2 separate regions of the Homo sapiens genome follow, and region 1 is linked to region 2. The links come from fine-mapping of genetic effects on gene expression. A gene starts in region 2. The other region holds a variant in brackets. All regions are shown on one strand. Distances are between the middles of the regions.

The links. PIP is the estimated chance that this variant, and not a neighbour inherited with it, causes the effect.
Region 1: its variant is the best candidate, but not a certain one, in a credible set for the expression of DENND4C in whole blood (TOPMed, PIP 0.62).

What each region holds. Positions count from the first base shown.
Region 1 is chr9:19,330,151-19,333,059 of GRCh38, reverse strand. It overlaps DENND4C (DENN domain containing 4C), which reads right to left. Exons shown (of 33, transcript NM_001330640.2): 17 at 876-1,082. Among named protein-coding and RNA genes, the nearest start is that of RPS6, 49 kb to the left of the region's middle. The variant G/A (reference allele first, on the strand shown) is at 1,223.
Region 2 is chr9:19,229,236-19,232,144 of GRCh38, reverse strand. DENND4C (DENN domain containing 4C) reads right to left here and starts at 1,452. Exons shown (of 33, transcript NM_001330640.2): 1 at 1,312-1,452. RefSeq lists silencers at 905-1,044, 1,265-1,634, 1,715-2,014 and enhancers at 648-1,153, 1,154-1,660, 2,045-2,294.

The DNA of each region.
Region 1 (2,909 bases), 100 kb before region 2:
TTGGGCACGAGTATATATATATATTTAAATATAAATAAAAAATATATTTTTAAATAGATTATATAACTCACCTTAGGACACAGGTCCTAAGTGGAGAGCCACTTACTAAAAGCCTATTCCCTATCTGCTCCCCAATAAAGTTATATTAAGAATAAAATGAAGCCAGCCACAGTGGCTCATGCCTGTAATCCCTGCACTTTGGGAGGCCAAGGTGGGGGTTCAAGAGCCAGGAGTTCAAGACCAGCCTGGGAAACAAAGTGAGACTCCATCCCTTAAAAAAAAAAAAAAAAAAAATCAAAAACAGAAAAACCATATGCCAGGTGCCATGATCACACAACCGCACTCCAGCCTGGGCGAGAGAGGAGTGAGACTCCATCTCTTTAAAAATAAACAAACATGGCCGGATGTGATGGCTCATGCCTGTAATCCCAGCACTGAAAGCTGAGGCAGGCAGATCACTTGAGGCCAGGAGTTTGAGACCAGCCTGGCCAACACGGTGAGACCCCATCTCTATTAAAAATACAAAAAAAAAAAAAAAAAAATTAGCCAGGTATGGTAACATGTGCCTGTAATTCCAGCTACTCGGGAGGCACAAGAACTGTCTGAACCCGGGAGGCAGAGGTTGCAGGGAGCCAAGGACGCACTGCTGAACTCCAGCCTGGGTGACAGAGTGAGACTCTGTCACAAAAACAAATCAATAATTAAAATAAAAAATAAACAAGTAATATGCACCAGCTCCATGAAACAGTAATAGTTTTACCTTTCCTGCTTAATGAAAATGCTTGAGCACACTTTAAAGCAACTTACACCCAAATTTTATTAGAAGTACAAAAATAAAATTTACCTTAGAAACAATGTCAATTTGTTATACTTGCCTCATCTAAGGGATCCACATCTGTTTTCCTCATCTTAATAAGTACATCATATGCCTGCTGAAGTGCTCTGACTTTAGGATGAGAAACTCTAACATAGGCCGGAAGACAAATAAACCATAAACTGTAACAATGACTAAACAGACACTTGGCCCACTGTGGTGGATTTGTATAACATCTCTTCGCCAATTTATGAGCTGTTTTTATTTCCTAGAAAGAGAATAAAATATTATGATATTTACTAAAATTCATTAGGGTGAGGGGAGAAGTGAGAAGGAAAAGGGAGAGGAGAATTTAAGTAAAACTTGACCCCCTAAAATCAAGCACTTCAAAGTTGACTTTTGTGAGTG[G/A]CTTCCTGCTTATCAGTGTTAATGGTTCCCCTGAACATTCATTTACAGTAATACTTCATACTATACCAAATCTATTTGTTAGCAAGCATGTGTCTCTTAACAGAGTAGAAATTAAGAGCAAAGATCATTCATCTTTTTGTAATAGAATGGCTCATGTCTTTTACAAAGAAGGAACTCATTTTTGATGGGTGAAAAAGTGATATTCCTCTCACTCTTCTCTTCACTAAAGTTTAAGATGCTCTAGGCTATCTCCTGCCAAGATTTCCACTCTGTCTTCCCAAGCTACAGTCTATGTTAACTCCCTCACTGACAGACTCCTTAAAAAAGACCTGTTTCTGGCCAGGTGCAGTGGCTTATGCCTGTAATCCTAGCACTTTGGGAGGCCAAGGCAGATGGATCACGAGGTCAGGAGATCAAGACCAGCCTGGCCAACATGGTGAAACCCAGTCTCTACTAAAAATACAAAAATTAGCCGCGCATGGTGGCATGTGCCTGTGGTCCCAGCTACTCGGGAGTTTGAGGCAGGAGAATTGCTTGAACCAGGGAGTGGGAAGTTGCAGTGAGCTGAGATTGTGCCACTGCACTCCAGCCTGGCGACAGAGCGATACTCCATCTCAAAAAAAAAAAAAAGGACCTATTCCTTTGCAGTCAACATAAACTTTCCTAATAGTTTGATAGTCATGTTTTCTAGTTCTGGTTTTCATTCAGATTTAGGTAGAAGAGAAAATTAGGTATCAAAATCATCTGGTGAGTTTTGGTGTTTTCTTTGTTATTTTTTTTTAAGACAGAGTCTTGCTTTTGTCGCCAAGGCTGGAGTGCAATGGCGTGATCTCAGCTCACCGCAACCACTGCCTCCCGGGTTCAAGTGATTCTCCTGCCTCAGCCTCCTGAGTAGCTGGGATTACAGGCACCCACCACCATGCCCAGCTAATTTTTTTGTGCAGATTTTTAGTAGAGACAGAGTTTCACCATGTTGGCCAGACTGGTCTAGAACTCCTGACCTCAGGTGATCTGCCCACCTCAGCCTCCCAAAGTGCTGGGATTATAGACGTGAGCTGCCGTGCCCAGCCATCTGCTGAGCTTTACCAAACTATATATATTCCCAGAAACTACAGAACCTATCACATATATCAGAATGCCATTTTATGCTCTGCACTGAAGATTCCTTGCTAGTCTATGTTCTAAATAAAAAAATCTTGGGGCTGGGCATGGTAGCTCATGTATATAATCCCAGCACTTTGGGAGGCCGAGGCAGGTGGATCACAAGGTCAAGAGATCGAGATCATCCTGGCCAACATGGTAAAGCCCTGTCTCTACTAAAAATACAAAAATTAGTTGGGCGTGTTGGTGGGCGCCTGTAATCCCAGCTATTCAGGAGGCTGAGGCAGGAGAATCGCTTGAACCTGGGAGGCAGAGGTTGCAGTGAGCCGAAATCGTGCCACTGCACTCCAGCCTGGATGACAGAGTGAGACTCCATCTTAAAAAAAAAAAAAAAAAAAAAAAACCAACTTGGTATATTAATTTTACTTTTGAGCTCGATCTCCATGACACTTCAGTACATATTTAAAAATACATGCCCTTGTTTTTCTAAGATCCTATGGTTCTTTTCTTTTCCAGTTAGCCTGAAAAAAAAAATTCTGCTATAAATGAGATTTAGAGGCTGAGTTAGCAAAATTTTCTCGTTTTA
Region 2 (2,909 bases):
AAAGAACAGGACAGAAAATATAGTTTCTTTTTTGCATGCTATAGTGATCAAGAATAAAGGATACCTTTAATGTTCAAAGATGAAAACTTCCTTTTGCAACTAATATTGCTCTTATCGCGTGTACACAGAAAAATCATACAACGCTCTGCATTTCTGATAGAGTAATACACACTATCACATCAAATCAAGTATTTATCCAGAACTTAGCGCCTTAGCACTAACGTTCTCCCCTCTCATTATACACAGACCGGAAGGGAAAACCTATTCCTACGTAAATTAGGGCCTAGGAAGAACGCCTCAACACGGGTTTGCACACAATTAAGCAGGCTCAGTGGGTCAATTTCTCAGGCTACAACGCTTGACAGTATCTCGGAGGCACAAAGAGACAGCTGAGGGTTCACTACTGGAAATGACACTTTCCCTCAAATTTGCACAAGTACCCGCGGTAACTACCCTAAATTTTCCCGTGTGACAAACATACATAAGGGGAGAAGGAGGCGGTACTATTTAAAAACTGGGTAATTCCTTATTAGTGCAGATAAAAGACGGTCTTCGAGAGGGAAAAGGTCTATCAAGCAGAAAAGGGGAGGAAAAAAAAAAAGACGTGACAGCATTCTTAAAACAGAAAAAGTTACAGCTCTTTACAGGAGTCAGCCTTAGGACTTCATTCCTTGGTTTTGTGTTTAGTCACTCCAGAGTTAAAAGGATACTGCCCTCCTAGAAAGTCATCCCCGACAAAGAAGCCCTGAGGATCGGCCACCGTAAGACAGAGAAGGAAATGTCTTCAATTCACCAGAGACACCTGCCCAGGTCCCCCTCCTCCCCGTTGTCCCCGACACTTCTCAGTCCCCCGACTCCTCTCGAGACTGCCCGCCACCCCTGGCTCTAGCTCTCCGCTCTCTCAGCCTCGACCCCCTCTGGGAAGCCCCGATCCTGCTCCCTCCGCACCCCGGCCCCCACCAAAGCGGCCGTCGCCCCGGCGGTCCCCCGGGCCCAGACCCCTCGCGCTTGTACGCAAACGATTCTCATGGGCCCGGCGGGCGACGCGGGGAGGCTCTTCAGGGGCAGCCTTTCCCCGACTGCATCCCGCAGGATCCGGGGACTCCCCGCCCCCGGAAACCGCGGAGAAACTAGGCCACGAACGCCAGCCGCGGCCACTCTCCGCCTCCTCGGCGACCCCCCGCGGGCCAGCCACTCGGAACTCAGCCCTCCGGGCTCTACCTGTCCCGCGCCCTCCCAGCCTTGCAGCGCAGGCCCCGCGAGGGCACGGCGCAGGCTTCCTCCGCCAAAGGCCCCGCGCCGCAGCCTCACCTGCTGCCTGCTCCTCTGTCAGCGCAGCCCCGACACGGCTTCTTCCTGGGGCAAGAAAGCACCGGATTCGCGGACTGGGCGCGCTCGGCAGGGCAGGGCGGGGGACTAGCTCCAGCGGCCGCCGCCGCCTCAGTCCGGTCTGCGCCTGCGCCGCCTCGCGGGCAGGGTCTCCGAGGGGCGCCGCCTACAGCCAGGGGCGATGGCCGGAGCGCTGGCCCGCGCGGGTGCCTCCGCGCTGTGAGCCGTCGGACAGTGCGGGCGGCGCGTCGCCTAGGAGCTGCCCGCGGCGCAGCCGTCCCAAGACCTGACCGCCATGTTTCTGTTCCCTTTTTCTCCCCCGCCTTCCGCCCCTTTCCACAAAACAGCACTTTCTTTTCCCCCTCCCTCTCCCTTTCCTCCTGCGGGGGCGGGTGGAAAAGGGCGGGGGGTGGGAGGGAGAAGACGCAGGGAGGAGGGGGGCGGTGCGGTGCTCAGGCCCCTCCCCCGGGGAGGGCCGAGGCCCTGCAGCCACCGCTCCCCTCCCCCGCCCGACCCCTGTGCGACCCCCGCGGGGCGCGGGGTCTGAGCCTTGCGGGCCTCCGATCCCCTCCTCAGCGTTCGCGCGGCCGAGCCTGCAGAAACAGAGCTGGGGAGAAAGCGCTCTGGAGGCCGCTGTGCACCCCTTCCTGCAGGGCTCAGACTGGCGGTGTGATGTGGGTTTATTGCCTTGGCCTGAGGCAGGTGGCGGCTGCTTCTCTCGGAGTTTTCAAAGACAGGGAAAGTGATGCCGAGTGGCTGAAGGTCACTGAGGACAGTGCCGGGAGATACGTGAAGATTCCTTCCCAGGGAAGGAATCTGGAATTCCCACGCATGAGTAGAGGGCTCTAGAGAGACCCGCGCGCTGGCCCTTCCCGAAACCCCTTGGCTCCAGTGCACCATGTGAGTCCCTGGCCGCGCTCGGTGTCTCTCCTTCGGCCCAGATTTGGGGATGGGAATTCCTAATGGAGAAATCGCTCATTTGCATAGTCAGTACCCTCACGCCTCCTAAGTGTAGCCTCATTATCGACACAGACGCCTGCAGAGTCGTTTCTCTATAATGCAAATTTTGCAGGATATTTTTGAACAACGTTTTTGAGTTATCATAGTAAATGAAAAAGCAATTACTAGTTATTTAGGAAGAAGGAAATGGTTTGAAGTAGAGATAACTTTTTTACCTCTGGGGGGAAAAAAAGGCGAATGACTTCAGATTCCATGGCAGGTCAAAATCAGAACTGGTAAGATTTCTGCATATCTGGTGAGTATCCACATAAATAATCATTTTCCTGAAAATTACACTCTCCTTATTTAATCTGTATTTTTGCATAAAAATGTGAGATTATACCTGGGTCATAAATGCACTGCTGTCCATTTATTTCTGAAGTTTATTGCATAGCCATGGATAATTTGAGTTTTATATTCAATAGCAGAAACTATTTTTCTAACCACGTAAGCAGTCAGAATTGATTTCAGAAGAAATGCGCAGCAATAAAAGTTAAGGCTTATTTAATAACAGTTTGGGGCCAATTTGGTCCCCCTGGAAACTATCTTTGACATTGACAATCCGAAGAGCAAAAGTTTAA